Linked DNA regions of Homo sapiens. The protein of the gene in region 5 purifies or fractionates together with the protein of the main gene of each other region. This does not show direct contact. Each region holds a gene or a part of one and is shown on either strand. Other genes may lie near its edges. The genes, in order: NSUN3, WDR48, SEC24D, ZC3H14, THUMPD3, METTL5 and TRMU.

Evidence for each region.
Region 1: the proteins of THUMPD3 (region 5) and NSUN3 purify together in Homo sapiens (co-immunoprecipitation; 3 studies listed by BioGRID and IntAct, with this or other methods). This does not show direct contact.
Region 2: the proteins of THUMPD3 (region 5) and WDR48 purify together in Homo sapiens (co-immunoprecipitation; one large-scale study listed by IntAct). This does not show direct contact.
Region 3: the proteins of THUMPD3 (region 5) and SEC24D fractionate together in Homo sapiens (co-fractionation; one large-scale study listed by BioGRID). This does not show direct contact.
Region 4: the proteins of THUMPD3 (region 5) and ZC3H14 fractionate together in Homo sapiens (co-fractionation; one large-scale study listed by BioGRID). This does not show direct contact.
Region 6: the proteins of THUMPD3 (region 5) and METTL5 fractionate together in Homo sapiens (co-fractionation; one large-scale study listed by BioGRID). This does not show direct contact.
Region 7: the proteins of THUMPD3 (region 5) and TRMU purify together in Homo sapiens (affinity purification with mass spectrometry; 2 studies listed by BioGRID and IntAct, with this or other methods). This does not show direct contact.

What each region holds. Positions count from the first base shown.
Region 1 is NC_000003.12:94,065,503-94,069,960, forward strand, and holds part of NSUN3 (tRNA (cytosine(34)-C(5))-methyltransferase, mitochondrial), read left to right. Parts: intron 1-4,458. UniProt on the Homo sapiens protein: Mitochondrial tRNA methyltransferase that mediates methylation of cytosine to 5-methylcytosine (m5C) at position 34 of mt-tRNA(Met). mt-tRNA(Met) methylation at cytosine(34) takes place at the wobble position of the anticodon and initiates the formation of 5-formylcytosine (f(5)c) at this position. mt-tRNA(Met) containing the f(5)c modification at the wobble position enables recognition of the AUA codon in addition to the AUG codon, expanding codon recognition in mitochondrial translation.
Region 2 is NC_000003.12:39,058,092-39,062,549, reverse strand, and holds part of WDR48 (WD repeat-containing protein 48), read right to left. Parts: intron 1-4,458. UniProt on the Homo sapiens protein: Regulator of deubiquitinating complexes, which acts as a strong activator of USP1, USP12 and USP46. Enhances the USP1-mediated deubiquitination of FANCD2; USP1 being almost inactive by itself.
Region 3 is NC_000004.12:118,829,011-118,833,468, forward strand, and holds part of SEC24D (protein transport protein Sec24D), read right to left. Parts: intron 1-4,458. UniProt on the Homo sapiens protein: Component of the coat protein complex II (COPII) which promotes the formation of transport vesicles from the endoplasmic reticulum (ER).
Region 4 is NC_000014.9:88,600,504-88,604,961, reverse strand, and holds part of ZC3H14 (zinc finger CCCH domain-containing protein 14), read right to left. Parts: intron 3,039-4,458; coding exon 2,879-3,038; intron 2,135-2,878; coding exon 1,902-2,134; intron 1-1,901. UniProt on the Homo sapiens protein: RNA-binding protein involved in the biogenesis of circular RNAs (circRNAs), which are produced by back-splicing circularization of pre-mRNAs.
Region 5 is NC_000003.12:9,376,545-9,381,002, reverse strand, and holds part of THUMPD3 (tRNA (guanine(6)-N(2))-methyltransferase THUMP3), read right to left. Parts: intron 3,185-4,458; coding exon 3,115-3,184; intron 501-3,114; coding exon 385-500; intron 1-384. UniProt on the Homo sapiens protein: Catalytic subunit of the THUMPD3-TRM112 methyltransferase complex, that specifically mediates the S-adenosyl-L-methionine-dependent N(2)-methylation of guanosine nucleotide at position 6 (m2G6) in tRNAs.
Region 6 is NC_000002.12:169,817,941-169,822,398, forward strand, and holds part of METTL5 (rRNA N(6)-adenosine-methyltransferase METTL5), read right to left. Parts: intron 4,118-4,458; coding exon 4,003-4,117; intron 3,334-4,002; coding exon 3,152-3,333; intron 1,704-3,151; coding exon 1,621-1,703; intron 1-1,620. UniProt on the Homo sapiens protein: Catalytic subunit of a heterodimer with TRMT112, which specifically methylates the 6th position of adenine in position 1832 of 18S rRNA.
Region 7 is NC_000022.11:46,354,645-46,358,166, reverse strand, and holds the end of TRMU (mitochondrial tRNA-specific 2-thiouridylase 1), read right to left. Parts: intron 2,724-3,522; coding exon 2,579-2,723; intron 2,178-2,578; coding exon 2,095-2,177; intron 1,326-2,094; coding exon 1,161-1,325; 3' UTR 827-1,160; downstream 1-826. UniProt on the Homo sapiens protein: Catalyzes the 2-thiolation of uridine at the wobble position (U34) of mitochondrial tRNA(Lys), tRNA(Glu) and tRNA(Gln).

The DNA.
Region 1 (4,458 bases), about 85 Mb from region 5:
GACTAATTTTTCAGATGGTTGGCTTGTCCATTTTTTTCTTGGATCAACTCTTAAGCATTTCTCCTTTACAAAGGGCAGTTCTGAGCATTTTCTAAAACAAATTAAGTTTTGGCTAATAAAGATCACAAAGTCTGAGGTGATTCTGAGATAATTTTAGGACAATTAAGCTGTTATAGAAATTGGTAAATGCTGTAATATGCAAACCGTTTATACTCGTGGGTTTTATTTCAAAAGTAGATTTTCAAATGGGTATTTTCTGTCACAGAGATGAAGAACTGAATAATAAAGTATGTAATAAATTTATGAGGTTTTCAGTATACAAAGGTACTCAAATAGAGTATCCAAATAACCAAACACTTATTGCATGTTTACTATATGCCAGACAATACTGACTTACATGATCCTCAGAACAAACCCGTTAAGAGTTTAAGTAATTTGCCCAAGTTCACTCAGCTAATAAGTGGCAGAGCTGAGGCTTGTGCCTGGGTTGTCTGACTCAATAACTCCCACAGCTCATCCTTGTTCTGTACTGTCTCATATCTGGGATGTGATTTAAAAAAAAAAAAGATTTCAAGAGGCTTTTTTTTTTTCTGTAGACTTTGTAGCAGTCTGGCTACTCATATCCTATAATGACTTATTTTTCTACTTAGTGTACTCAGAAAGTCATATACTATTATTTGACCCTGAGCAAAATGAGCAATGAACCTCAAATCCATTTAATTAGCTGTGCCTTCTGCTTCATTTACCCTATTGTGGGGTTTTTGTGGTAATTTAAGTTTTGCATAAACACACACTAAATTTGCCATAGGCAAAATAAAGGTTTCTCAGCTTAGGAAGTAGTCTGAGCATGGAAGATGGTATGGGGAAATAAGAACAGAATGAAATATTTTGTGTTTTAACTGCTTGTTTGCAAGACATAATGTACTTGTAGAGTCTACTTCCAGGGAAAGTCAAGTGCTCTTTTTTTGGCCTATTTAGAAAGTAATTTATTCAATATTTTTAGTTTCCTGTAGTAGTGAGGAAGATTTAGTATTTAGTTTTGCTCTTTTTTAGTAACCTTTCTTGTCTAGTCATCCTCTGAGCAGCCCTTTAAAATTGGAGTTTACCCTGGTTCAATTCTTGCTCTATTTGTTGCCTCCATGTTCTCCTCAGGTAAGCCCATTCATGGCATGACTTTTATCAGTATGCTGTCATCTCAAGCTGTGAGGTTCTTCCTAAGATTTAGTCCCATACTTCTGTTTTTTAGCAACTTCAGTTACTTGGCAAACTCAAAAGTGTATTATTATTTTTCCCTTTCAAACTTATGTTGCCTTTGCTACCTGCATATTTTATCTCAATTAAGTGTATCACCATCAGTCTGGTTTCCTCCTTTCTTCTCTATACCTTCACTACCTTTGTAGTAAAAAATGAACCTTATATAAAAATAGGTCTGGCAACTGCCCTCAGCTCCTGGGAGGCGATCTCTAAGCCCTTGGAATGTGCTTCCTGATAAGTGTGTCTTTGTTTACCTGGGTGTTGAGGTCACACCTGATAATCTAACGATGTGATTTATGTTGAGGCCTGGGGACCACAGGTGTCAACTCAACATCCAGAAGGGCTTGTGACTAAAAGCTGTATGGACAGTCAATCATATATACGTGACCAAGCCCCAATAAAAAGTGGATACCAAGGCTTTGGTGAGTGTCCCTGGTTGGCAATACTCTTGTGCATACTGTCATACATTACTGCCAGCAAAAGTTGACCTCGTTGATGATTCCGTTGGAGAGGACAGCTGGAAGCTTCATGCTTTGAATTGTTGTGAATTCTGCACTATGAGTCTCTTCCTGTGATTGTTTTTAATCTGTATGCTTTCATTATAATAAACTGTGACTATAACTGTGATTATAACAGCTTTCAGTGAGTTCGGTTGTGTCCCAGTGAATAATCAAACCTGAGAGTCATCCTTGGAATCCCTGAACTTGTAATTGGTGTCAGAAGTGAGAGTTGTCTTTGAGACTCAACTACCCTGCCCCCTTTTAATTTGGATCTTTTTAAAAAAATTCTCTACTGCTGCCATTCACTTAGACCTTCCCAATCTCTTATCTGGCATATTGCAACAGCCATGTTTAGTACTTACCTGTTTGCTTATTTTAGCAACCACTTTTATGGCACTATGTACCAGTCAATGTTGTAATCACTTTATGAATAATAACAATCCTATGTACAACCCTCTGAAATAGTTATTTCCATTTATATATAGGAAAGCTGAGGCACACAGAGGTTAAGTAACTTGCCCAAGTATACACATCTCACACTTTAACTTGCCCAAGTATACACATCTAACACTTTGAAGAGCCTTGAGAGTTTGTTGTACCCACTCTGTCATGCTGTTTCTCGGTGCTACCAAATTCCATTGTGTCACACCTTGAGTACAAACCTTTGCTCCCCAGAAGTCTGCAGTATTATGTTTGGACTAAAAATCTTATCTTTCTGGGCAGGCTCCTTCATGCCTTTGGGACTGGCTATGCTGTTCTTCTGCTAGGAATGCCTTTTTCCCTTCTCCCTCTGTGCAGTAGTGTGGGTTCAAATCCCACCTCTGCATCTTGTAGCATATGACCTAGGTGAGTTAATATCTCTGTGCTCCATTGTCCTCGTCTGTAAAATGGGGAAAAAATAGTATCTATTTCATATAATCATTTGGGAAGATAAAATGAATTTGTGTATATACAATGTGAATGGAATGTTGTTTGACGTATAGTAAGGACTTCATATGCATTAGCATTATTTTTGTTACTATGATTAACCACTTCATCAAGCCTTCTGTATGTCCCTTGGCAAAATTAGTTTTGCCCTTCGTGTATCCATTGCATTTTGTTGATAGAGCTATTGTGATTCTTTCAAGGTTTTATCGTCATAATTTACTAACTTGCTTATCTTTTTCCTGACAAGGGAGGGTTTTGAAGAACCAATACCTTGAGACTTGGGCAAGTCTTCTGCTTATTCCCAGTTTTGTCAGTGTTTGTGTACTAGGCATTGTGCTAAGCACTGAGAATACAAAAATGGACTGTATATATCCTGCCCTCAAATACATGTATGATTAATTGGATAATTAATGGATACTTAATAAATGTATGATTAATATAAGCATTAATTAGAAATATTTATTAACTGTGGAAATTTTACATGTACTTTATAGAAAGCAAAACAAACAGACCATATAAGTCTGAACTGTCTGCAACATCTTTTTTTTTTTGGACACTCTCCTCACTGACCGAGAGTTCACATACAGAGAGGAAAAAAAAATACACACACACACACACACACACATACACACACACAACCTGATAATATTACCATAATCTGTGAAGGATGTAGACTGAGGTGGTTAAGAAAGAGAGAAATGAACCAGTATCTAGATTTCTATATTGTCCTATATGTTGGCTTTACACACATTTTCAGCCTTAATCTGTGCAAATCTCTGTGAAGAAGTAACTTTTAGACACTTTAAAGTCAGAGGTTAGAACAATTGATAGGTATCTTGTAGTTGTGGCAAATTCAGTCCTGTGACTTAAAAGTCCACGCCTTTTCCTATACCATCTGTGCTGCTGTGAAGGGTCCAGAGTTGCATCCTTCCAAATGTATGCTCAGATCCCGTAGTATGAAGGACTCTTATGTTCAGGATTTTTAGCCTTTTGATGTTCCACCAGAAACGCAAAGGATTTCCTATCTGAGGTACAGTGAATAACAAATCTGGACATAAATTGCCCTTCTGTGAGATACAAGGAAGATCCATTGCCAAAATAGAATAGGAAGCCATCAGCTCTTCGTTAGCATCTCTGAGGAGTAAAAATAAAATGACTCAAAAACATACTTTGGTGCATTTCCATAAATTGATTTGTTTTTCATTTCTAACTTTTAAAAGAGTTGAATGAGCACCCTCTAGTGGATAATAATAGCACTAAATCAAGGAATTTCTCTTTTTTAGCTATGGAAATTTAAATAGGTTCTGTAATCTACAGGGTTATATTAATTGTGTTTAACAATTTCTAGATTAAATGATATTTTTCATCTTCGTCACTAGGACGGAAGGTAGGGTGGAGAGTAGAGTAGTAGGAAAAAAGAATAAAGTCACAGAAAAGTTGAATGAAAATTATACTATCAAATAATAAACATTATCGAAATGATACATTATACAGTTTTGCAAAATTTTAACTTAACTAGCTTTTAATTTTTTAATGCTTTAATTTTGTTAAAATAGTAAGTAGTTCAGAGAGCCTTGAATCAGAACTCCAATTTTATTCATTTACTCCAGGATTTAGGCCCCAGGCACTTAGCCAAGGAGAAAAATAAGTCAAGGCTCCCATATAAATGAGTTAGGGAAATGGGTAAGCAGGCAGGGTGACACACAGTGTGATATATTAGTTTAGCTTCATTAACTGTTTCTCAAAATTCAGTTATTCTTGTGTACCATCTGTCTAG
Region 2 (4,458 bases), about 30 Mb from region 5:
CTAACTCTTGTTGCAGCCTTCAGGTTTCCATTTAAACAATACTTCCTTTAGAAGGCCTTCCCTGACTTGCCAAGCAAAATGAGGTTTTGAGCTCCTATCACATACTAAACTTTTTCTTCAGGGCATTTTCCCCTACTTTGTTACTGTTGGTGACCTCTGTCTGTTCCTTGTGAAAACAGGGGATCAACTGAAAACAATTACACCTAAGAAAAAGTCAATAAGCTGGCTGGCAGCCAGAAGTAAAACTTTCTAATGTAATGAAATAAACAGTTAAAAATTAACTCAAGATGGACTAAAGACTTAAATGTTAAGACTTAAAACCATAAAAACCCTAGAAGAAAACCTAGGCAATACAATTCAGGACACAGGCATGGGCAAAGACTTCATGACTAAAACACCAAAAGCAATGGCAACAAAAGCCAAAATTGACAAATGAGATCTAATTAAACTAAAGAGCTTATGCACAGCAAAAGAAACTATCATCAGAGTGAACAGGCAACCTACAGAATGGGAGAAAATTTTTGCAATCTACCCATCTGACAAAGGGCTAATATACAGAATCTACAAAGAACTTAAACAAATGTACAACAACAACAACAACAAAAACAACCCCATCAAAAAGTGGGCAAAGGATATGAACAGACACTTCTCAAAAGAAGACATTTCTGCAGCAGACACAAGAAAAAATGCTCATCATCACTGGCCATCAGAGAAATGCAAATCAAAACCACAATGAGATACCATCTCATGCCAGTTAGAGTGGCAGTCATTAAAAAGTCAGGAAACAACAGATGCTGGAGAGGATGTGGAGAAATAGGAATGCTTTTACACTGTTGGTGGGAGTGTAAAGTAGTTCAACCACTGTGGAAGACAGTGTGGCGATTCCTCAAGAATCTACAACTAGAAATACCATTTGACCCGGCCATCCCATTACTGAGTATATACCCAAAGGATTATAAATCATTCTACTATAAAGAAACATGCCCACGTATGTTTATTGCAGCACTATTCACAATAGCAAAGACTTGGAACCAACCCAAATGTCCATCAATGATAGACTGAATTAAGAAAATGTGGCACATATACACCATGGAATACTATGCAGCCATAAAAAAGGATGAGTTCATGTCCTTTGCAGGGACATGGATGAAGCCAGAAACCATCATTCTCAGCAAACTATCACAAGGACAGAAAACCAAACACCACATGTTCTCACTCGTAAGTGGGAGCTGAACAATGAGAACACATGGACACAGGGCAGGGAACATCACACACTGGGGCATGTTGGGGGGTAGGGGGCTGGGGGAGGGATAGCATTAGGAGAAATACCTAATGTAAATAACAAGTTGATGGGTGCAACAAACCAACATGGCACATGTATACTTATGTAACAAACCTGCACGTTGTGCACATGTACCCTAGAACTTGAAGTATAATAATTAAAAAAAATTATCTCAAGTACCTATAGTGATTCTATTAGGAACAATTATACCCTTTCTCCACATCTTAAACCAAAAACGAATTTTTCTATGAATTAAAGACTGAAATTTAATAACCATAAAAATAATTTTTGTTTTTATTTTTTGAGAGAATCTTGCTCTGTCACCCAGGCTGGAAAGCAGTGGCCCGATCTTGGCTTACTACATCCTCTACCTCCCAGGTTCAAGCAATTCTCGTGCCTCAGCCTCCTGAGTAGCTGGGATTACAGGCATATGCCACTGTGCCCAGCTGATTTTTGCATTTTTAGTAGAGATGGTGGTTTCACCATGTTGGCCAGGCTGGGTTTCAAGTGGTCCACCCGCCTCAGCCTCCCAAAGTGCTGGGATTACAGGCGTGAGCCACTGCACCTGGCCAGCATAAAAATAATTTTTAAAAGACAGGTGAATATTTACATAGTCCCTTGCCAGAGAAAACTCTTCCAACATGCCAAGAAAGATGGTAATCTTTACGAAGGAAAAGAGCAATGGTGATCTGGCCAAATACAAGTCAAAACCTTTTCTATGTACAAGAATGTTCACAGCATTGTGGCATTCACAATAATGTTACAAAAGTGGAAACAACCCAAATATCCATCAATGGACAAAACAAATAAAATGTGATGTGTGTGTGTGCATATATATATATATATATGCACACACACACACTGTACTGACACATGCTATAACGTGGATGAACCTTGAAAATGTGCTAAGTGAAAGAAGCCACATATTTTACAAAAGGCCACATATTTTATGACTCTATTTATATATAATGTCTAGGATAGACAAATCCACACAGAAAGTAGATTAGTAATTGCCAGGAGATTGAAGGAGGGAAAAATGAAAAACGGGGAGTAATTGCTAATGAACATAGAGTAATTAAACATTCTGGAGTTAGGTGACCAATAAACAACTTTCCGAATATACAAAAAAATCACTGAATTGTACACTTTGAAAGGGTGCACTTTATGGTATGTGAATTTTATCACAATGTTATTATTTTCTTAAACCTTCTGAATGTCAAAAAGTAACACGAGCAAGACTAAGAGAATAATGAAATAAATATGAAAGAAAGTTTACTCTTAACAAGATTCCTTATAAAATAAGAAAAAGTCAAATTTACCAACAGAAAGAGGGACAGTTACAAAAAGGGACTTTTTAAAAAAGAAATGGCCAAAAACCCCATAAATAATCAAAGACAAAATTAATATGAGATTATTTTACCTATAATACAAGAATTTTTTAAAATAACTGCCATTTTTGTTTCCCCTGAGGATAAATAAACACTTTCTGACAAAAGTTTTAAACTCTTTGAAATGTTCTTTAAAATTCAATTTCCAGAAATTTGTCCTTTAAAAAGGGCCAGGGCTGCAGACACAAATAGCTACAAGGATGTTGTTTTAACCCAGTCTTTTGGATGCAATTAACTGTAACTGAGATCTACTCAAACCAGCTTTTGTTTGTTTGTTTGTTTTTTAAAGGAGACTTCAACACAAGGATATCTTAACAGAGCCCAAGGTCAGGAAATACAGTCATCATTTATAAGAGGCATTTAAAAAATCAAATCATGACACTTCTCTGCTGAAACTTTCCAATGGCTTTTCACAAAATTTAAAGTTCAAACTCCTCAAATGCTTAGTTCTGACCCTGCATCCCCCACTCATTTCAAACTGACTGCCCCCAGCTTCTTTTATGACAGTCATTCCAAACTCCTTTCTGTTACCGTAAACACATCAAGCTCTTTCCCATCCCAGTACCTTCTCATTTACTGTTGCCAGTGTCATGAAGATTCACCACCCCTCGAATCCCTATAGGAATACTCTTTCTCCAGCTTTCATCTTGTCTAACTCACCCTTACTCTTCAGATCTTAGGAGAAAGGTCTCCTTGGAAAGGCCTTTCTGATCTCATTCTCCTCAGGGTTATGACCCTATCTATCTTACATTACTTATTTAACAGTTCTTACCACATTCTGTATTTTTTTTTTTTTTTTTTTTTTGAGACGGAGTCTCACTGTATCGCCCAGGCTGGAGTGCAGTGGTGCGATCTTGGCTCACTGCAACCTCTGCTGCCCAGGTTCAAGCAATTCTCCCAACTCAGGCTCCCGAGTAGCTTAGATTACAGGTGCCTGCTATGGCGCCCAGCTAATTTTTGTATTTTTAGTAGAGACAGGGTTTCGCCATCTTGGCCAGGCTGGTCTTAAACTCCTGACCTTCTGATCCACCCACCTTGGCCTCCCAAAATGCTGGGATTACAGGTGTGAGCCACCGCGCCCAGCCACATTTATATTTTTTGGTGTATCTTCTCCATTAGAATAATAGCTCCAAGAAGGCAAGGGACTTGTCTGCCTTGTTCCTTCCACCCCTGTGCCCCCATTATAGTGTCTGGCATATAAAAGACATACGTATCATTGCATGAATTGGCTTTCCAAAGCCACCAGGAACCAAGCTAGCTTCAATGTCAACTTCAGCCTCTCTCAATCTCTCTTTCTCTGGGGTTCCAGGGCTGCTTACCTAGCTCACATTTCCTTTAACTGAGACTGTGCAGCATATCTAAATCTTGATATCCAGACTTCTGGGAGATTATCTGACTGGTTAAGGCAAGAGTGAAAGAATAACCTGAATGTCAGAATTCTCATTCTAGGTGGAAAGTAATTACTGTTAAAACCAGTCTGGGCCAACCTCTTCAACGGTATTTCCTAAAGACGTGTGCTTTAAAATGCAAAAGAATTAGAAGTATCCTAGTTGGATAAATTCTAGCACGCACATCTGTAAAACACAACACTATTCAATCACTTAAAATGTTGATGTAGGCCAGGTGTGGTGGCTCATGCCTGTAATCTCTGTGCTTTAGGAGGCTGAGGTGGGAAGACTGCTTGAGCCCAGGAGCTTGAGGCTGCAGTGAGCTATGATGGCACCACTGTACTACAACCTGGGCAACAGCATGAGAGCCCTGTTTCTAAAGAATAAGAAAGAGTTGATG
Region 3 (4,458 bases), on a different chromosome or scaffold from region 5:
CCTTCCACCCTAAGTCTTGTTTAGGTGCCCCTGCCACGTGCTTCCATACCACCCTCTACTTCCTTTACAATAGTACTTCCCCACAAAATTGTCATTGTTAATTTCTTTAGTGCATTTCTCACTAGCTAAGTAAATACTATGAGGACTGAGATTAGGCTTATTTTATTAAGTGTCATATTACCACAATTATTTTGTTCATCAAATAAATTGTTAAATTTGTGGCTGGGTGCAGTGGCTCATGTTTGTAATTTCAGCACTTTGGGAGGCCAAGGCAGGAGGATGGCTTGAGGCCAGGAGATCGAGACAGAACTGGGCAACATAGTGAGACCCCATCTCTACAAAAAATTTTAAAATTAGCTGGGCATGGTGGGCACACCTATAATCCTGGCCACTTGGGAAGCTGGGGCAGGAGGATCATTTGAGCCCAGGAGTTCAAGGCTGCAGTGAGCTATAATTTCGTCACTGCAATCCAGCCTGAGTAACAGAGCAAGACCTTGTCTCTTTAAAAAAAAGTGTTAGGGGCCAGGCGCGGTGGCTCATGCCTATAATCCCAGCACTTTGAGAGGCCGAGGCGGGTGGATTACCTGAGGTCGGGAGTTTGAGACCAGCCTGACCAACACAGAGAAACCCCGTCTCTACTAAAAATACAAAATTAGCCGGGTGTGGTGGCGCATGCCTGTAATCTCAGCTACTCAGGAGGCTGAGGCAGGAAAATCGCTTGAACCTGGGAGGCGGAGGTTGCAGTGAGCCGAGATCGTGCCATTGCACTCCAGCCTGGGTAATAAGAGCGAAACTCCGTCTCAAAAAAAAAAAAGTGTTAGTATACAGCACTAGCTTTACAAAAACACAATGAATAAGCATAAATGGAGATACGATAATGTGAGCAACACAAAGCAAGAGTTAGCACTGGCCAGATCTACAGTGGAATAGATACTTCAAAGAACCACAATAAGTTTGCTTGTGTCTGTCAGGAGACCAATAAAAGCGTCACTAAAAGGCTAGACAAGAAGACACAGGAAGACTGAAGATTAAGGTATCTAAGGTTATTCAGCAGAATATAATCAGAGATATAAGAGCTGGAGTAATTTAGTGAAAGTCTTAAATAATTAAACCAAAACACCACAATATGCATAGAAAGATATATTTGCAGAGAGTATAATAGCCTGGTTATTCACCTGATATTTAATAGCCATTAAGTAAGGAGAAAGCAGTTTAAACTAAAGCATGAAGGATTTAATCCAACAAAGACAGCTTTTAAAAACACTGGTAAGGCCAGGTGCCGAGGCTAACGCCTATAATCTCAGCACTTTGCGAGGCCAAGGCGAGAGGATCACTTGAGCTGAGGAGTTCAAGACCAGCCTGGGAAACATAGGGAGATCCCATCTCTACCAGCTACTTGGAAGCTAGGCAACAGAGCAAAACCCTGTCTCAAATAAATTAATTAATTTAATTTAATTAAATATTGGTAAATACCAGAGTGTTTTGCTAATGAGTGCTACAGTTTGTCATCCACTTCATTGAATAAACATTTATAATTAGCTCAATTTAACCATTCCACAGTGTATACATATTTCAAAACAATATGTTGTACATTATATATATATGTATATATAATTTTTTATTTGCCAATTAAAATTTTTTTTTTTAAAAACAGCCATGAGTGCCTTCTCTGCTCCAGGAACATCTACTATAGGAACATCTATTATAACACAGTATGGCAAATAGTATAGAGGCCTGAAAAAGTATTAGAATACAAAAGAATTCAAATTAGATTTGCATGGTATAAAAAAATCCCTCTGGCTCAGGAGTTGATGGTTTGGAAAAAGACAGTATTGGAGAGAGGGATAATAGTTACAAGATCATTTTAGTAATCCATGTGAGAGATGGATGGATTGAACAAAAAGAGTGACAGGAGAATGGAAAGGAGAAAGCAGGTAGGAAAGCTGTTTACAATCACTCCAAAAAGATTTGGGAGACCGATTACATTGGAGGAGATAAAAAGGAGGGAGAGGTTTTTTTGCTTGTTTGTTTGAGAGAGTCTCACTCTGTTCCCCAGGCTGGAGTGCAGTGGCGTGATCTTGGCTCACTGCAACCTCCATCTCCCTGGTTCAAGCGATTCTCATGCCTTAGCCTCCCAAATAGCTGAGATTACAAGCATGTGCCACCATGCCCAGCTAATTTTTATCTTCTATTTTTTTAGTAGAGACCGGGATTCACCATGTTGGCCAGGCTGGTCTCAAACTCCGGGCCTCAAGTGATCCACTTGTCTTGGTCTCCCAAAGTGTTAGGATTACAGGTGTGAGCCACCACACCCCACCAAGTTTTGTTTTTTTGTTTTTTTAATAAAGTTTCTGGTATGGATCACGAAATAAATGATGCTAATGAGTGAGATTTGAAATGCCAGAAAACATAGGCTTCCATGATGAATATGGAATTGTTTTGGGCATGGTGACTGTGACGTGCCTCAACAAAGGTGGGCAACTGGAAATATGGGTCTAGAGCAAGCTTTTCCAACCCACGGCCCACACGCAGCCCAGGACAGCTTTGAATATGGCCCAACACAAATTTGAAAACTTTTTTAATCCATTATGAGATTTTTTTGATTTTTTTTTTTTTTAGCTCATCAGCTATTGTTAGTGTATTTTATGTGTGGCCCATGACAATTCTTCTCCCAGTGTGGCCCAGGAAAGCCAAAAGACTGGATACCCCTGGTCTAGAGCTTAGGGGAGGCATCTGGGCTGGAGAAATAGATCTGAGAGACAAGCACTTTCTGTGAATGATCCAGCTTAGGGAAAAATCTACAGAGTGGGATAACAGTAGTGAAGATGGAACATGGAGGGAGAAACAGCAACACTTAAGAGTCATGTAGAAGAATTCCTTCAAAAGAAATGTCCAGAAAGCAACCCAAAAAAATGGGCACAATGGCTCACACCTATAATTCCAGCACCTTGGGAGGTGGAGGCGGGTGGATCACGTGAGGTCAGGAGTTCGAGACCAACCTGGCCAACATTGTGAAACCCCGTCTCTACTAAAAATACAAAAATTACCCAGGCATGGTGGCGGGCGCCTGTAATCCCAGCTACTCAGGAGGCTGAGGCAGGAGAATCACTAGAACCCAGGAGGCTGAGGCAGGAGAATCACTAGAACCCAGGAGGCGGAGGTTGCAGTGAGCTGAGATCGCAAAACTGCACCCCAACCTGGTCGACAGAGGGAGACTCCACCTCAAAAGACAACAACAAAAGGATAGTGTCATTGAAACCAAAGGAGAAAAGAGTTTTGTAAAAATGAGAGTGGTAAACAGAGTCAAATACAAAAGAGGACAGACAGCACAATGTCTACTGCATTGAGAAATAGGACACTGATAGTCCTGGTGAGGGAAGTGAAAGTGTGGATGGGGTGGCAAACTATGGAGTGTAAACTATGCTGAGCCATGGAGGGAAGGAGAGGTAAAGGTGGAGATTACCAAGCATAGTGAGTACTTTCTCAAGAAGATGCCTGTGAAGAGGGAAGGGTGAATAATATAGAGTGTTATACTTAGGTGTGTATGCAATTTGTTTTTTGCCTTCTTGAGAGATCTGGGTATGAATCCTGGTGCTACTACTTGCTGTCTGTGACCTTAGACAAGTCACATGACACCAGACATTCAGTTTTCCTAGCTGCAAAAATAACTTACTGCATAGCATTGTATGAGGATTAAATAAGACAATACAGGAAAAGCTTTTAGGGCCAGATTTCGACACATCATAAAAAGGAATAATTTATAATTATCATTATAAATAAATGCTGAGGAGAAATGAACCACCAGTTAGAAACTGAAGGGGTTAATGGTTTCTACAGGATCCAGTAAGGCAAGATTACAAACATTCTGGAGAGGATGGTCCTGAACAAGAAGAGGGATGCTTCATCTGGACATCTTTAAAATCTCGGGAAGAATAAATCATAAGACTGACTTTCCACAGGAAATTCACAATCTCAGAGCATCTTCTGCAGCACACTGTGTGTGGCTGCTAACATCAAGCCTCACTAAAGGGAGTCCTCACCCCTTGCTGATTCTGCACTATATACATTCTACCTAGCACAGCCTGGATCCCAGATATCTAAGCTAGTTCCAGTGAGCCCTGAGAGTTACTCATTGATTTATACATGGTCCATTTGTACAAAGAATTGTACAAAGAATTATCCTCACATGATGTACAGATTTATCTAGGGCCAATCCTAGATAAGGATATGTGAATTTAATTCATTTATAAATTTAATTCTTTTTTTATTCAATGTTTACAATAGCCTTACACCACTAATTAACAGCAAGAACAAGACTCACAGTAAAAATAAAACAGGAAGTGTTTGTTTTAGTCTATATTTAAAAACCAAACTTGTATTGCATGCAATAACCAAACTAGTGATGTAGAGTTCTGCTATGAGAGCCTTTTCCAAATGATCCTGTAATCTCAAGCCATT
Region 4 (4,458 bases), on a different chromosome or scaffold from region 5:
CTTTGTAAACTATTAAAACTTTCTGTTCAAATTTTAAGAGGCAAATTCACCTTTTATTGAAAGCTATAGGCCAGGCACGGTGGCTCACACCTGTAATCCCAGAACTTTGGGAGGCCGAGGTTGGTGGATCACTTGAGGTCAGGAGTTGGAGATTAGCCTGACCAACATGGTAAAACCCCGTCTCTACTTAAACTACAAAATTAGCCAGGTGTGATGGTGCATGCCTGTAATCCCAGCTACTTGGGAGACTGAGGCAGAAGAATGGCTTTCAACCTGGAAGGCAGAAGTTGCAGTGAGCTGAGATGGCTCCATTGCACTCCAGCCTGGGGGACAGAGAGACTCTATCTCAAAAAAAAAAAAAACAAAGAAAGCAAGCTATAAAATCTGTGCTGCCATATGACAGTGAGTGAAAAGACAGCAGGTTAAAACAGATGTTGTTGTTGGTAGCATCCTTGAAACAACCCAACATAAAACCAACCAGAAGCAATTGCAGTTTCAAACTCCCTGCTCACAGGGGAAGTGGTGCAGAGACTAGAGACTCCTGAGAACTGTTCTGCAGGAGTCTCTCCAGCCACACCCCTATGCTAATCTTACAAAGCTTCATCCTTGAGCAGCAGGGAAACACTGAGTCCCCAGTCAAAGCAATGGGAAAGGAGGCTCACCACTCATCATGGCTGTCAGCACAATGGCCACAGCACTGGCAAGAATTTTTACTAACATATTATTTATGGTGTCACTGCTGCTACATGTATACCCCATAAAGCCTCATATGGACACCTACATTTAAATGAAACCAGATCCTAATAGACCAAAAAATTAAGGTACCAAATTGAAAATCAAGAGTAGTGAAAACACTGGAGTCTTCTCTTTAGACAAAACATACAGAGTCAATAAATCGGGACTGCCTACTGCAGCTTTTACTATTTTTTAAGTTTTTCTTCCTGTTGATAGGGTCAGATTTTCAACTCCCTCCACTAATCAAAACCACGACACTACGTCATTGATTCACAGTAGGAAACGCAACCAATTAAAATAAAGCTAAGTGTTATTGCTCCACTAACATATGATTTCCCTCTGAAGTCTATTCTATTTTTAATGATCGAGAAAGGTATTCAATACATTTTCATATCTCTTCCAAGAAGAGGATTACTCAAGGAAATGTTTCAAAATCCATTACTGTTTTTCCTTTGAATCTGTACGCTTTTAAGATTGAGTAATTATCCCTCCTGCCAATGAAGAGGTGCTTCTAAATATTTTAGAAGATATAAGGAACATAATTACCATTCTCTATCATGAATGGAAATGATCAGTGGCGTTGCAGCTACCACTGATACCCAGTGAAAGAAACGGTGATAAGAAACTGTCACCTGCCAAAAACTATGGTGCTATCTGAAATGAGTTCATCTGAGTTCTGCTAAATATTACTCTTCAACATTAATTTAAACAGTTCCAAGATCTTGATAGATTAGGTGAGAAACTCCTTTCAAAGAAATTTCACTGAGGTAGAAATAGCATCAAATCTAAATTTTTCTCTCAAGTTAATTGCAAGAGACTATTGCTGATAAAAGGGCAAAGTGGCAGTACAGTTTCTGAAGAAAATACAAAGGTAAAGAAGGCAACAAGAATGGTGGTTCATCCTTTAGCCAGCATAAGCGGAAGAGGTCTCTCAGGTTCCATGGCTGAACTCCGTTTTCAAACTGGAGTAACAGCCCACCTATGAAAAAGACACAGGAAAAAGAGTCTGAAATGTACTTGGTGGGTTTGTCTGAAAGAAGAAAAAAGGCCATTACTGAATATAAATAAAAGCAAGGCCTTTAACCAATATTCATTCAAGGTAGAGAAACAAGTCAAAGATTCCCTTCACAATGACAGCACCCTGAAAATCTGAGCTCTCAACACACCGTTAGAAAAGCTACCATTTGGGTCCTCAAGCTGCCTGCTCAGCAAGTGCAACTGCTGTGGGTGGAGGAGACCTCTGAGTCCCTTGTTTGAGGCTGCAGTTTGGTTTACGGGTTTCATTCCTTCAAAGCACATGTCCTCCTCTTGATCTGACATGTATCCTGGGGGGCTGGGGACACCATCCAGCGTCACTATAAACTTGGGACTTGCAGGTTTATCTGGTTGTACAAGATCTCTGCCAGACAGATAAAAAATACCATAGAATTAGGGAAACAAACACAAAACGCTGAGCCCCCTAAAGTGCTCTTCAGCAGAACTATCACTCCCTTGGCTTTGCGTTTGGTTCAATAAAAAAAGACTAGGTAGGGCTACCAGGTGCAGCACTGGTGGGTTCTCTGCTAACACACGATGGCCATGAACAGTCACAGTGGCATCACCAGTGACCCTCCAGCCTGTACTTACTAAGGACAATCTCCCCTCAAGCCTGACCCCATCACCCATTCGATCTTCATAGGGTCAACATGGAAACAAACCAAAAAATTAGCATCAATGCTCAGAACACAAGGGCCAGCAGCATTTATGCTAATTATCTGTATGTTTCTTCTTTTATAGAAACAGTCAATTTTCTAAGGGAAAAATCACCCAAACCTGATCTGCCAACTCTCTTTAGAGCTGACCTGATTATGGTCAGCTGGCTTTTAAACTTGCATTTCCTGAATTTGCATAAAGAAAAGAATCTTTAATAGAGTTAAATCATACACTGAGTTGTAATTTGTAGGTTAATGGATTTCTGAACAAGAAAGATGAACTGGAATTCTTGAAAACTGAATTTGGCTAACTATTCATGGGCTAGCTACTGAATCAATGAAAGCACTCTACGCTAGCGGTTAGGGCGGGGAGGAGGGAAGCTGCAAACGAATGGTTAACCTTTACTATCTAATCACACAAATTAACTACACAAGAAAAAGAAACCATCTACCGTGTCTGCATAAGGTGTCCTGAAAGTACCCGAAGGGAATCTGCAGTCTTCATCCCCGACTCTTGGTTTGGTGCCACTACTACTTCCTCAGACAGCTTTGGCTTCTTCAGAATAAATGATCTTGTGTCTGCATGGACCATGGATTCCATGTCATAGTAATCTGAGCCAAAAAAATTGGCCACAAATGTTTACTTTTGAATATACCTTACATTCCCAACATTATATATGTGAGAAGAATGTCAATCTTTTATATATTCAAATTATTTCAAAGGAAAATCACAACTGGTTCCACTCAGGAAAACAGGGCTATAATTCTATTCCAAACATGTTTTCAAAGAACTCAAGGAGTCCTTCTCGCGTAGGGCACGGCACAAGTGATTCTGATTAACACTCCCTAACCACAGCAGAGAAAGGTTCTCAGGTGAGGCATCTCAACAGATATTAACAATATACCCTTAAAGTACAAAAATCTTTTCTAAAAACCTGGAGAATTTGAGTCCTAATGCTCCCTATAATTAGAATACACAGACTGCTGAACCACTTTTCCAAAATCTGGTTTGTTCACTTCGCACAGTACCACTTAGAATCATGTCCTGATAAAAAGAATTCAAGTGGTATAATTTCCAGTTGGTTATAAACCGAGGACTACTTTAAAAGGTAACTGAAAGGTGAATGGACACTTAAACATATGTATCAAGAAAAACACTGGCCTTTAATGCAAATAACCATAAGCTCACATCATCTACTATTTTATAAAATATGCCAAGACCTACAACCCAGAATGGCTGACCTATCAATACGCCATCAACGGACTGAAGTTAATACACTTCTTTTAAAGCTTAGAGACCAAAATTTACAGGGTATTCATTTATGTTCATTCACTGAGTATTTACTGAACAACTAAGAGAACTGAGCTAGATACACAAAGAAAAAAAGAAAAACAGACACATATACAATTTCAGAATAGCATGACCCAAAAGGGATGTGAACAAGGTGCTGAGAATACAGAACAGCCCACTCCAGCCAAGAACCAACGAAAAGCTTAGCAAGGAGGAACATCTGAAGTCAGCAGTAAAGGAACAAGCAGGAATAAACAAGGAGAGAGACTCGGAGAAACGAACACAGCACTTCAGGCAGAGGAAAACGCACGTAGAAGGAAAGGGGCTTTCACAAGGCCGAAGGCATCTGAGAAAGGTTAGAATGTGGAATGGCTGGAAGGGTGTGTGTGGTGGGCTCAGCAGTACATACCAAGGAAGGCTGACACATATAATAAAGGTTCTTCTATGTCTCAGTGACTCTCGATTCTGGTCTATAATTAGTAAGAAATCAAGTGGCCTGGTGTGGCGGTTCATGTCTGTAATCCCAACATTCTGGGAGGCCAAGGCACAAGGATTCCATAAGCCCAGGAGTTTGAGACCGGCCTAGGCAACATAGTGAGACCTCCCATCAACCAGAAAATAAATAAATAAATAAAATTAGCCAGGCGTGGGAGCACATGCCCGCAGTCCCAGCTACTTGGGAGGCTGAGGTGGGAGAAGTGCTTGGGCCCAGGAGGTCAAGGCTGCAATGAGCAGGATTGT
Region 5 (4,458 bases):
CCATGATCATGTCACTGCACTCCAGCCTGGGTGACAAAATGAGACCCTGTACCCAAAGCAAAAAAGAAGCCTATGTAAAAATATACTGTTTAAAATTTTGTGAAATTAAAATGAGTCTATAAAATATTCTTCCAATATGTAGGGGAAAAGACATATGAATAAGACAAATGAAAAATTGCATATGGTGGGGAAATTATCGCTAAAATAATATTTTAAAAATATAACTTATTTTCAATAAACTTTAAAAATGTAAATGGAGTCTCATAGTATATTCATTTTGGTTACAATGACGTCACAATGCACTGGGAGTTTTAATTCATAAAGTCAATATAAAAAGTGATTCTCTAACTCTAAAAGATGCTAAGAAATCTTTTAAATTTTTACCCTTCTTTAATTTGGCTCTTGGTCAATAAAGATGCAATGTTATTTGCTGCTCTATTCACAGCCAGTGGATTATTATCACCAGCAATATGGAAACAGTCAGACCATTCAGTGGCCCCCTAAAAGATAAGAGTGTATGTTAAAACAAAAGTAGCAAACTGTAAAATATGATTAAATTGTCAACAAACAAAGAAAATCCAGTGCTTTTCTAGAGTGGCAAAACATTGCATGTTGTCAACTGTGCTATTTCCCTGGCTGAAAATGCCCTCTTATTCTTTCTCTGCTTGCTGAACCTCTACCCATCTCTTAAGACCCAGCTCAAACCTCATGCCCTTTCAACATCAACCTTAACTCTCCAAGCAGTCTTATGTGCCCCTCCCAAAAACACTTTGTATGTACGTACCTCTGCCACTGCACTTGTCCCACGGTTAATTATTTCTTCCCCTTTATGCCTCTCAACTAACCTGGGAGCTCTCTGAGGTCAGGTCTAGTATTTTATTCAGTTCCTCATCCAGCAGTGTCTGGCACACTAAATTCTAAGTTAATGCGGTTTGAAAATATTTGAGATTTGTGGTTGTGGGAGTTTACATAATCTGATATATTTGAAAATTGCAAAATAAAATGCTATTTCCGGCCGGGCATGGTGGCTCACACCTGAAATCCCAGCACTTTGGGAAGCTGAGGCAGGAGGATTTCTTGAGCCCAGGAGTTTGAGACCAGCCTGGGAACATGGTGAAAGCCCATCTCTACAAAAACACAAAAATCAGCTGGGTGTGATGGTGTGCACCTGAGTCTCAGCTACTCGAGAGGCTGAGGTGGGAGAATGGCTTAAGACAGGGAGGCAGAGGTTGCAGGGAGCTGAGATTACACCACTGCACTCCAGCCTGGCTGACAGAGCAAGACCCCAGGTCAAAAAAATAATAGTAAAATGCAATTTCCTTTGTATGATAGGCTTTTGAATGGTAACCACCATATCACTGGAAGGATTTTGTAATTATAAATAAAAAACCTGTCAGCAGAACATAAATACCAAGCTGTCACATGTCATTTGTGGAATGAGGTGACGTGACCCTAGGCCTGAACAATGTTCTATGCAGATTAACAGAAGGTTTCTGACACGAAAGCCGGGAAAGGTCTGCCTCTGCTTAGGGGTGAGTAGCAAACACCTTTGTGTTCCTTTGTGAACAGTAACATACTTCTCATCCATGAGTGCAGTGTTTCATAACTTTTTCTTTTGCCCAGACACTTGAGGGTGATAACATACCCTGTCTACAATCCTACGATGACATCAAACAAAAGGGAAGTTGAAGTATCCCAGAATTTTGGGTGGGTGGGGATGTAGAGGGGACCTAGAGTTTGAGGAAGGCTCTCAGTGATTCCGATTCCCAAATATTCTTTTTTTTTTTTCCTAAACCTATTTGGATTTTCAGCATTGGAAAGAATTGGGTTTTATAGCATAACACTTCTAAATTAAAAAAAAAAATTATTCTAGATCAAGTATTTTATACTTTGGTGAACAAATCTTTATATATACCTTGTCAATTTATTCATAATTTTATTCATTTTGATCATATATCGGCTTAGGTTTTTCTACATTGACATCTGCATGTCTACTCTTACATGGAAATGGCTCAAACTTCATGTTTTAATTTTTTTCGGCCTTTATTTTTACTCGGAGCTCTGTTGTGTATTTCTTGACATGCGGTGACCTTACCTGCTATTTCATACACATATCATGATTTCATACTAGAAAACAACACTCTGCTTTCTTCCCAGAATCCTTCTTGGCCACAAGAAGGACTGGGTTTTTACTGTGCAGTCTCTTTAAGCCACAGTAATTTCTCTAGCTTTCACGGAACACAGTCACATGTAGACTTCTATGATTTCAGTCTTGGATTTTAACTCCCAGAACAGATACCATTTTCTAATTACAGTTTGGATTATTTCTCCCCTTGTGGGCTTGCTTTGGACTTGCTCATCTGTCCAGTTTCTACCCAATCATATAATCTGCTGTGTCTCCCTGCAGTTTATTCAAATTGGCTGTCAGTATACTATATGGAAGAACTACTATGTTTCACACAAACTTCAGTGATTTTACTGGGAGCTCCCTCTTCTAAATTCTTTAAAAACATATAGATGATACTGATTATTCAAGGGGAATCTACTGTGAAATATTCTCCATTTAGAAAATGCCTTTCCATTTCTTGCTTTGCTTTACACAGTTTTTATGAGTCCTCTCAATATCATGGTAATTTTGAAAACTAAGAGCATTTGGTATTAAGCTTGTTAGACTTCCTAAAAAATCCAAGTAATGTTCATAAGTTTCCCCTTTTTACAACTATACTTATTCCCTCTAGGAACTTAAGTGGATTACAGAGAAGAAAATTGCCTTCCTCCAGTTTATGCTTATGCCTTCAATTATCTTTTCCCATTCAAGTCTACCAGCTTGTCTGTTACACAAAGAGGACTCATCGGCAGTTTGTAATTCTCAGCTTCCTCTGTAATCTAGTGAATAGATGTCACTAACAATGTATCTAGGCCAGTGGCACATGGCTCTTTGAAATAAGTAGTTACATTCTTTACAAAAAAGTTCCACTTTCTATTGTTAATTGTTTTAAAACTCTTGGGTCCACTGATCCAACCATGGAGATTTCATTATGTCTAATTTGCCCATTAGGTCTAGAATATTCTGGATGTATCACTCTTATCTAAAAGCTAAAGAAATATGATTACCTCTATTGGTATTGCCCCAGTTCCACACATTGGATCGACTATTATATCATAAGGTAGAGGATCACAGAGCCTAGAGAAAAGAAAACAGCCTATGTGAAGACTCACTCAAAAGCTGAGGCTTCTATACTGATGATTCCTGAAGCTTTAAGATTGAGGACCTACCACACTAGCCCGAAGGAACACCAATCTACACATATTTTAGAAATCAATTTGTGGCCGCGCACGGTGACTCACGCCTGTAATCCCAGCACTTTGGGAGGCTGAGATGGGTGGATCGCTTGAGGTCAGGAATTCAAGACCAGCCTGGCCAACATGGCGAAACCCCGTCTCCACTAAAAATACAAAAAATTAGCTGGGCGTGGTGGTGGGTGCCTGTAATCCCAGCTAGTACAAAGGCTGAGACTCGAGAATTGCTTGAACCCAGAAGGCGGGGATTGCAGTGAGCCAAGATCATGTAAGATGCAGCCTGGGTGACAGAGCAAGACTCCGTCTCAAAAATAAATAAATAAATAAATAAAATCAATTTATAATGATATGTTGACTGTATATTCCATTACTTGGGGAAAAAAAATCCTTATAACTAAATCTCCTTTGACTATCTTCCAAAATCCCATTTCACTCTCAGATGAAATTTAGTTTGCAGACATCTTAAAGTACACATGTGTACACACACACACACACACACGCTCATGCATACTTTTTGACAACAGTGTTGTTTTCAACAGAAACCTGTATTACATTAAAAAGACTCAAAAATGTCTCAAGTCAAACATGCATCAATATAAGGTTACTGGCAATGAGACATTCAGTATTCCTTTCCTTCTGAATTTAAAGCTAATCTTGATATAAAAAAATTGCTCTGTGGGACTAGGTAATAAAAAAAGGAAAAAAAAATGCTTTACTTTGAGCACTTAGTATTTCCTGGGCATGGACTTAAGCTCTTTCCATGCATTATCTCACAGAATCCTCAGTAAGGACCCTGTTAGATAATTATCATTATTCTCATTTTAAAGGTAAGCTGATGCAAGGAAACATGAAGTTACCTGCCCAGGGACACAAAACTAGTAGGTAACAGATTCAAGATTAGAGGCATTACTGTTAGTGGCTTAACTGTTATCCTCTTTATGAAGCATCCCACCCTGAAACAGGTCAGTAGGTTTCTTCCCTTCTCTTGTTCTTCTAATCTTTTCATGTGCTGGTGTGGGACTTATCGCATGTATGATAACTATTTATCTCCCTCACAAGACAGATTCTTGGGGGTTAATAGTGGGTTCTTATTGTAACATTGGTCCTGCTCTATCTCCTTGCTCCTACTCCTCAACACATGGCAATAGAATCCTTGGC
Region 6 (4,458 bases), on a different chromosome or scaffold from region 5:
TGCAGAAAAGAGTTCACAGCAGGCCTGGCTGCTTATCCTTAGAAAGGCCTGCTTAGTTTGGCCCTTGTCTGGAGACTGGGAACTTAGATTTTGGGAAGCCTCCCACTCCCTACTCCCTTAATAATAGTGACTGACTGTGCCTAACACTGTTTATGCTGAACACCTGTTTTCCTACTGGGAGTCTAGAATTTGGGTATGTGTCAGAAAGGGAATTGCCTACATGATCAGTCCCTAATAAAAGCCCTGGGCACTGAGTCTCTAATGAGCTTCCCTGGTTGGCAATGTTTCACATGTGTTATCAATAATTCATGCTGGGAAAATTAATTGTGTCCTGTGTTATTCTACTGGCAGAAGACTCCAGAAGCCTGGCCCTGGTTTACCCCATTCTCTGCCTAATGCACCTTTCTCCTTGCTGATTTTGCTCTATATCCTTTCACTGTAATACATCATAGCCATGAATAAGACTAGATGCTGAGTCCTGTGAGATTTCCTAGTGAATCATCAAACCTGAGGGTGTTCTTGGGGACACAGGTTTGGATACCAATGTTTACTGGTGTTTGCTTTCATATATAGTGAGTGAGGATTTATTTACTAGCTATGTTGTGTCCTGTTGCTTGCCTACATGTACCACTACTTATTATTAGCAGTATAGTTCTTTTTAGCTGTTATATTTTATGCTTTTTAAAAGGTTATCACATTACCATGTAACTAGAATGTATTATTTCCAACTGGGTTCTTACGTACTGTATTTACATGAATTAAGTATTTTTCCTACAAAAGCACTTTAAAATCTTTGAATACATGTATGATTTAAATAATAATAGCTAACACATAGCAATTACACATGTCAGACACTGATCTAAGTGCTTTGTAAATATTAACTCATGTAATCCTCACAATTCTTATGAAGTACAATTGGTACTCTCAGTCCCTTACACTTAGAGTACAGGTGAGGATAGTATAGATGACAAAAGCTCAATTACCTTGATGATGAAACTCAATTACCTTGACCAAGAAAACAGCTGGGAGGCAGCAGAACTTGGATCTGAACCCAGAGAATCTGGTCTGGCTTCAGAATCTCTGTTCCTAACTATTGTGTTATACTGACACTAAAAAAATGTACTGCCCCTTCCCCCAGTTTCCTGGACTACAACTTATACACCTCTCCATGTGTTATATGCTGCAAAAGTAAGAATAGGTGATTTCTGAACTCAGATCTGTTTAGCTCCAGGCTCAAGTGTTCTGAAAACCTGGCCTTACTGCCTCCCTTAAGTACATCAGGCCACACCGGGACAATGGGACAAAAGGGATCAACTAAGACTTACTCAGAGAAACCAAAACATACAGTAATCCTAGTTACAACACACTTTTCTACTCCTGAGTTATAGTCTCTCCTCTGGCAACAGTTCCTGTCTGAAAAAAATCTTTGAGGAAATAAGTCTTATAGCCTGGAAAAAGGCCAATCAGATGCTAGCTGGTTAAGTGGAAAATTTAAGTTTCACATGTCAAAATGGTCAGGAGAAATAGATACTGTGGTATCTAGTATTCACAGCAAATCCTAAAAACACTGTCATGAATTTAAAAATCAATGCCACAGAATATCAGATGATTTGAACTTACTTCTCTAGTTGAGGATTTGTGTAAGGAATATACTGCTGTTCTTGCCATTTCCAAAGCAGTCTTTAGAAAAGCCATATCTGTCCCTGTGAAGAGTAGAAAAAAAGCTCCTATTTACCTCTTCTCAAAACAGAAGATTAAGTTAGTAGGATTTAGAAATATTTTCTTCCAAACTTCAAAATAGCCACCTTGAAATCTTTTAGCAATAAGGGTACAAATAAACTATCAAAATATTATTTTAAGGCTGGTAGAATAAAACCAGAATTATACTGTCTTGGTTAAATAAGGATAAAGTAAAAATTTTAATATTATATTCCAACATTAATGACTTCAAAAAGGGGAGAAGGAAATGCATAGAGTACTATTCAGAATCATCTTGGTGGGGGCAGGGTACTTTTTAAACTATGCATGTCTTTTTTTTTTTTGTTTCGCTCTTGTTGCCCAGGCTGGAGTGCAATAGCATGATCTCAGCTCACCGCAACCTCCGCCTCCCGGATTCAAGTGATTCTCCTGCCTCAGCCTCCCTAGTGGCTGGGATTACAGGCATGTGCCACCATGCCTGGCTCATTTTGTATTTTTAGTAGAGACGGGGTTTCTCCATGTTGGTCAGGCTGGTCTCAAACTCCCGACCTCAGGTAATCCACCCACCTCAGCCTCCAAAGTGCTGGGATTATAGGCGTGAGCCACCACGCCCGGCCAAACTATGCATGTCTTTTCCTACCCTCACTGACTTCCTAACCTCCTTGCCCACAGTACACACAAAATTAACAGCCACGGTGAGTCACTGTTACTGATGGGCACATGTAGAAACCCTTGGGTCTGTTAAGACATTAAAAAACAGATTCTGAAAGTATAAAATTCTTTCTATGTTTCGTATTCATTCATAAGGGTTAGGCAAATTATTCCTGAAAGCAAATGGGAGATATACAATAAATGACATGACTATCTTTGTTTACTTAATACAAATTTGTAAAAATGAAAGTTGAAAAACTCAGTTTCTTAGCCATGCATTAAACAAATTGAAATGTAAATTATAAGAACTATACAAATAAGAGATTGGTTTACTTAATGAAGAGTAATAACATCACTTAGCCTTGGTTTATTTAATGAAGAGTGATAAAATCACTTAGCCCAAACAGTGATAAAAATGGTTTTTATTTTTGTTTAATTTTTTCTAGACAGGGTCTTGCTGTTACCAAGGCTGGAGTGCAGTGGCACATTCATGGCTCATCGCAGCCCCGAATACCTGAGCTCAGGTGATCCTCCCACCTCAACCTTCTGAGTAGCTAGGACTATAGGTGCACCACCACACTTGGGAAATTAAAATTTGTGTGTGTGTGTGTGTGTGTGTGGGTAGAGGCAGGGTCTAACTATGTTGCCCGGGATGGCTACCAATTCCTGGCCCCAAATGATCCTCCTGTATCAGCCTCGCAAAGCACTGGCATTACACGCCTGAGCCACTGCGCCTGGCCTTAAAAATGGTTTTAAAATCTTTTCTATAAATATACCAATATACCCGATTCTTGTTACAAACCTTTATTATTTTTGGTCCCAAAGGGAGGATTCATAATTACTGTATCGAATGACTTGGACATTCTGTTAGATAATAAGCACACATCACATTGAACCATGTCAATATTTGTTAACTCAAACTCTTCTGCATTCCTATTAAATATTTCCAATGCGTCTTCATCTATGTCAAATCCAACACACAACCTATAAATACAAAACACATACAAAGAGTGGCGACTTATAGCTCCCAAGTAAAAACAAAACCAAAATTAGCTGTTTTTTTTTTAAACCATATATCTTTTTAACCCAATTAGCAAAGTAAGAGTGAGTGTTTTCTTCTTTTTTTTTTTCTTTTTTCAGACAGGATCTTGCTGTGCCACCCAGGTGAGTGTAGTGGTGCCATCTTGCACTGCTCAAGCAATCCTCCCACCTCAGCCTCCCAAGTAGCTGGGACCACAGGCGCACACCACCACATCCAGCTAATTTTTGTATTTTTTGTAGACATGGGATTTCACCATGTTGCCCAGGCTGGTCTCAAACTCCTGGGCTCAAGTAATCTGTCCACCTTGGCCTCCCAAAGTGTTGGGATTACAGGCATGAGCCACTGTGCCCAGTCAAGTGTAACAGCATAATTTCCAAACCCGGCAGGGGTTGGAAACTCAGGTTTGTATAAAAGGAACTGCTGCTTTCACCATTTTTATTTAATTTTTGTAGTTTGTTTAGATCTTCTGCCCATTCAAAATGTATTCAGTATCAGATTTTTGCTCCCTATATCTCATTCTGTGGAGTCTCATAAATATAATTCAGTTAATCCCATTGATGCTCCTTATTAAAGCCACCCAATACCCAAATAGCATATATTGCATTACGTACCCTGCTCCTAACATTGCAGTTCCGATGCTAAGTACTCCACAACCACATCCTAGATCTGCAACGACTTTATTTTCAATGTCATCATAAGTGTTATGGATTGTATAGAGCATACATGCTAAAAAATAAAAAAAAAAAGAATAAGTAAGCAAGCCGGTGACTAAAATCTAATTTGTGCAAATGACTCTTTCTAAAATAATTTCTTGTGTTGCATTACTTAGTCCTCCCCAAATGCCATTCCAGATTATTTTTGTAAAAGATAAGGGGTAATGATTTGGTATGTAGTAAGAGGCACCATAAAGGAAGCTAATACCCACCAGTGTTTCTCAAAAAATAGTCTCTGCTAGCAATGCCAAGAATGACAAAACTGTGCCCAGTCTCTGAGGTAAAATAAAAAAAAGTCAAAACGTTTAGTTTTTCCTCAGCTTGTTAAAAACATTGCCATATACTCATATCGGT
Region 7 (3,522 bases), on a different chromosome or scaffold from region 5:
CAGTTCCCAGGCTGGAGGCCCGACCACAGCCATAAATCAGGGAACCCCTGAGCCCAGGGAGGCTCCGTGCTGGGCTGAGCTGGCAGAACAAACGCGGCGCTTTAGCTCGGCCTCCATGCCCAGCTGGGCCGAGGATCCCCAGGGGCCTGTCTGGTCCCACTGGCCAGCGCTCTGCCTGCCTGGTAGAGCTGGGGCTTGCCCCTGGCCAGGGCAGCACTGACCCCACACCCCCCACCTCCCCACCCCAGCCCAGCAAGGGCCACGGCTCCACCTTAGGCCCCGTTTCCTCACCTGGCCTGCGGGGTTCTGGCCCACTCCTCACCCTCAGGACACTCCCTGCTGCGTGGGGGCCTAGGCTAGAAGGAAGGGTGCCCCAGGTCAGGGGACACCCAGTGGGGAGATGGGAGGAGGGGTCAGGATGGACAGTGGGCCCCATGGCAGCCCCCACCCTGACGCACCAGCAAGAACTCAGGGCATCTGGGCAAGGCCCTCTGCGCACCACCTGGCTGCCTCTGGAACCTTCCCACCCAGAGAAGGGGAATGCACCTCTGGTCCCCGCAGGAACCTGTCTTGAGGCACCAACAACACGCTACGAAGGACTCAAGCCCAGCAAGAGGAAGAGAGCCAAGGACACAGGTCAGCATCGCAGGCACCTACTCTGGAGTCCAGGAGCAGGGATACGGGGGCAGAGGATGGAGCAGCTGGGACCTCAGGGAGAGGTACGCAGGTTGCCATGGCTGCGTCTGCAGTCCACCTGCCTTTCCACGCCAGGGAGTCAGTGATGTGGAGCCCCCTGGGCCCCAGTGGAAGCAGCGATCAGACTATGTGTCCTTGAAATAATGTTTATTCCACGCTGTCCCGACAGCCCCCTCTGCAGGTCCCCTCGGTGTACTCTGAGGTGGGAAACCCTCCCTGGGGGCGGTGAAGGGGAACTCGGGCCACCCCACCAGCCAGCAGATGCTCCAGCAGCCAGAGCCCCAGCCTGGAGCTGAGGCTCTTCCTGGGGCTCGCCGGGCCCCTGCAGGCTTTTCGGACCCTCAGCCAGCCCGGCTTCCTCTGCTTTGGGCAGCAGCAAGCTGGCCCTTGGGCACCTGGACTGCTCACCAGCCGCCCAGCCATGGGTCCTGCTCTCCAGGTTCCTTCTAGCAGATCCATCTCTGTCAGAGCAAGGGACTCAGGCCTGGACCATCTTCTGGGCTGTCACTGGGGCTCTCAGTGGCCATCCCAGCTCTGCGCTGGCCCTTCTGGAGCGTGTAGGCAGACGGCCCCAGCCGCAGGATCTTCCCGCTGCCCAGGCACTCGTCCCCCTTGTAGAACACAGCAAACTGTAGGGGAGAGACCCTGGCATCAGGGGTGCCACAGGGAGCCAGCCGAGGGCAGGCAGGGGCAGAGTGCTCCCCTATGGGGCCTGGCCTGTGCTCGGAGCACCAGGCACTGAGCTCCCAGGGGAGCAGGGTTTTGCTGCTGCTGCTGCTGCTGAACAGGAGAGGAGAGGCCTGGGGCACCCAGTGGCTTCACTAGGGAGGGTCTTCAGGGTACCTCTCCCTGAGTGGGACAGTCACAGGGGCCTCTCCTGGGACTCCAAGGGACTGGCAGGTCTCTGCACCCCTTGGGAATGTGGAGCTGTGACAGGAAGGAGCATGGTGGCAGCCAGAGGATGCTTCCGCTTCCCTCACCCCAGGTTCCCTCCCACCACCTGCCCCTGGAGATTCCTCAGGCCTACACCCACCAGGCGCCCACCCTGGGAGCTCCTGCACACTCGGCCCACAGGGGCCCCGACCCTCTGCCTCTTTGAGCACTGTCCTCATGCCCCTTCCATTTTCTGTCCTCGCTTCTGGGGCCCGGGCAGCAGCTGAGCCTCTCAGGGCCCGAGCAGGAACTGGCTGGTTGGTGACACCAGAGTGGAAATCCTCTCACAGTTGTCACTGTGGGAGGAGCCCCCAGGGCAGGGCTGGTGGCACTCTGCCCTCACCAGCTGTGTGACCCGAGCACACCCTACTCCTGGGCCTCAGCCCCTTCCTCTGTAACCCGGGTGCCCTGGCAGGGTGCAGAGCAGTACAGTCCTCCCCGGGCTCACCCCCACACCCCACGCACCTGTCCTGTGGCAAGGGCACGCACAGCCTGCACAGCTGTCACCCACACGGTGCCATCTTGATTGAGGGTCAGCACACAGGGCACTGGGTAGAAGAGAGGGGCCCTTGGAGGGGGCACAGGCCTTTCCTGGTCGACCTCAGGCCCCCAGGGAGAAAGGAGCACCAGCCCACGGGGTCAAAAACCCCTGCTTAGAGGGGAAGGGCAGGGCACCAGCCTGGGCCCTGGACGCAGCAGGACACTGCGGGGCAGTGTACACACTTGCTTCAGCCCAACACGCCGGGGCCTGCCTGCATCTGCTCCCAGCACCCCCAGGCCTCGCTCAGGGCAGGCACAGGACACGGGAGTTCTAAATACTTTAGGTAATCTCCAAATGATCTCCACAACGGGACTTTCCTACCCCAGGGTCTCCCATCCCTGGCCCAAATCTGGCCTCAGGAAGCTCAGCTTCAAGGGGCCCGTCCTCAGGAGCCCTCCCGTCAGTCACCTAGTGCCATCTGGTGGCGGAATCGGAAGTGGCACTCCATCATCTTGTCCCGGACCAGTGCTGCGGGAGGCTCCTCCGCAATCCAGTGCACGCGGCTGGTCCTCAGCAGGTCCCTGTACAGGGCTGGGTGGTCTGTCCGGGGGGCCTGCAGAATGGAATGTGAAGGTGGGGACGCCGAGGGGCACCTGGCCCCAAGGCCGGCCTCAGTGTGGTCCCTGGGAACAACTGTCCTACCAGCACACACACACACAGGTAACGGTGCTGGCACCGCTCGAAGTGTTCTACCCACAGAAATTCATCTCATCACCCGCCGGGCCTTTGAATCCCCATTTTACAGATGAGGAGACTAAGGCCCAGGAAGGAAGTACCATGTCAGAGTGGGCAAGAGGCAGGGGTGAGATCCGAGCCCATGACAGTGAATGCTGCAGGTTCAAGTCTGACTCAGGCCCTCTACCTGCAACCACCTGTGGGGCAGCAGCACGGCCCCCCTCGAGGACTGGTTTTTCTATTCGCAGGGACAGGGGCCAGCCACACCACGGGCTCTTCTCTCAAGGCCACCCCAGGAATTCCTCCACACACCAAATGGCTGAGGAGAAAGGAGGGACTGGTAGCTGCTGGCTTCCCACAGGTGCCCCAGGACTGGCCCTGGTCTGGGGGGCCCCAGATACCCTAGGTTGGTTCTGAGGCCCCTGCTCCCTGTCACCCACCCATGGCCTCGGGCCATTGAGACCTGGCACCTCCTGGGATTGTGCCAAGCCCCGCCCCTGAAGCAGGACGAGGAGCATGAAGTTAAGGGCTTTGGGTTCTAAGCAGGCACCAAGACCCGTCCAGGGACAGGAGGCCGTTGGTTAACCCTTCTGGTCTTCTCACAGCAAACTGAAATCTAGATCATTTAATTCATTCGCAGCCAGGCTTTTCTCCCCACAGGTCTTCCTAGTAAGGAG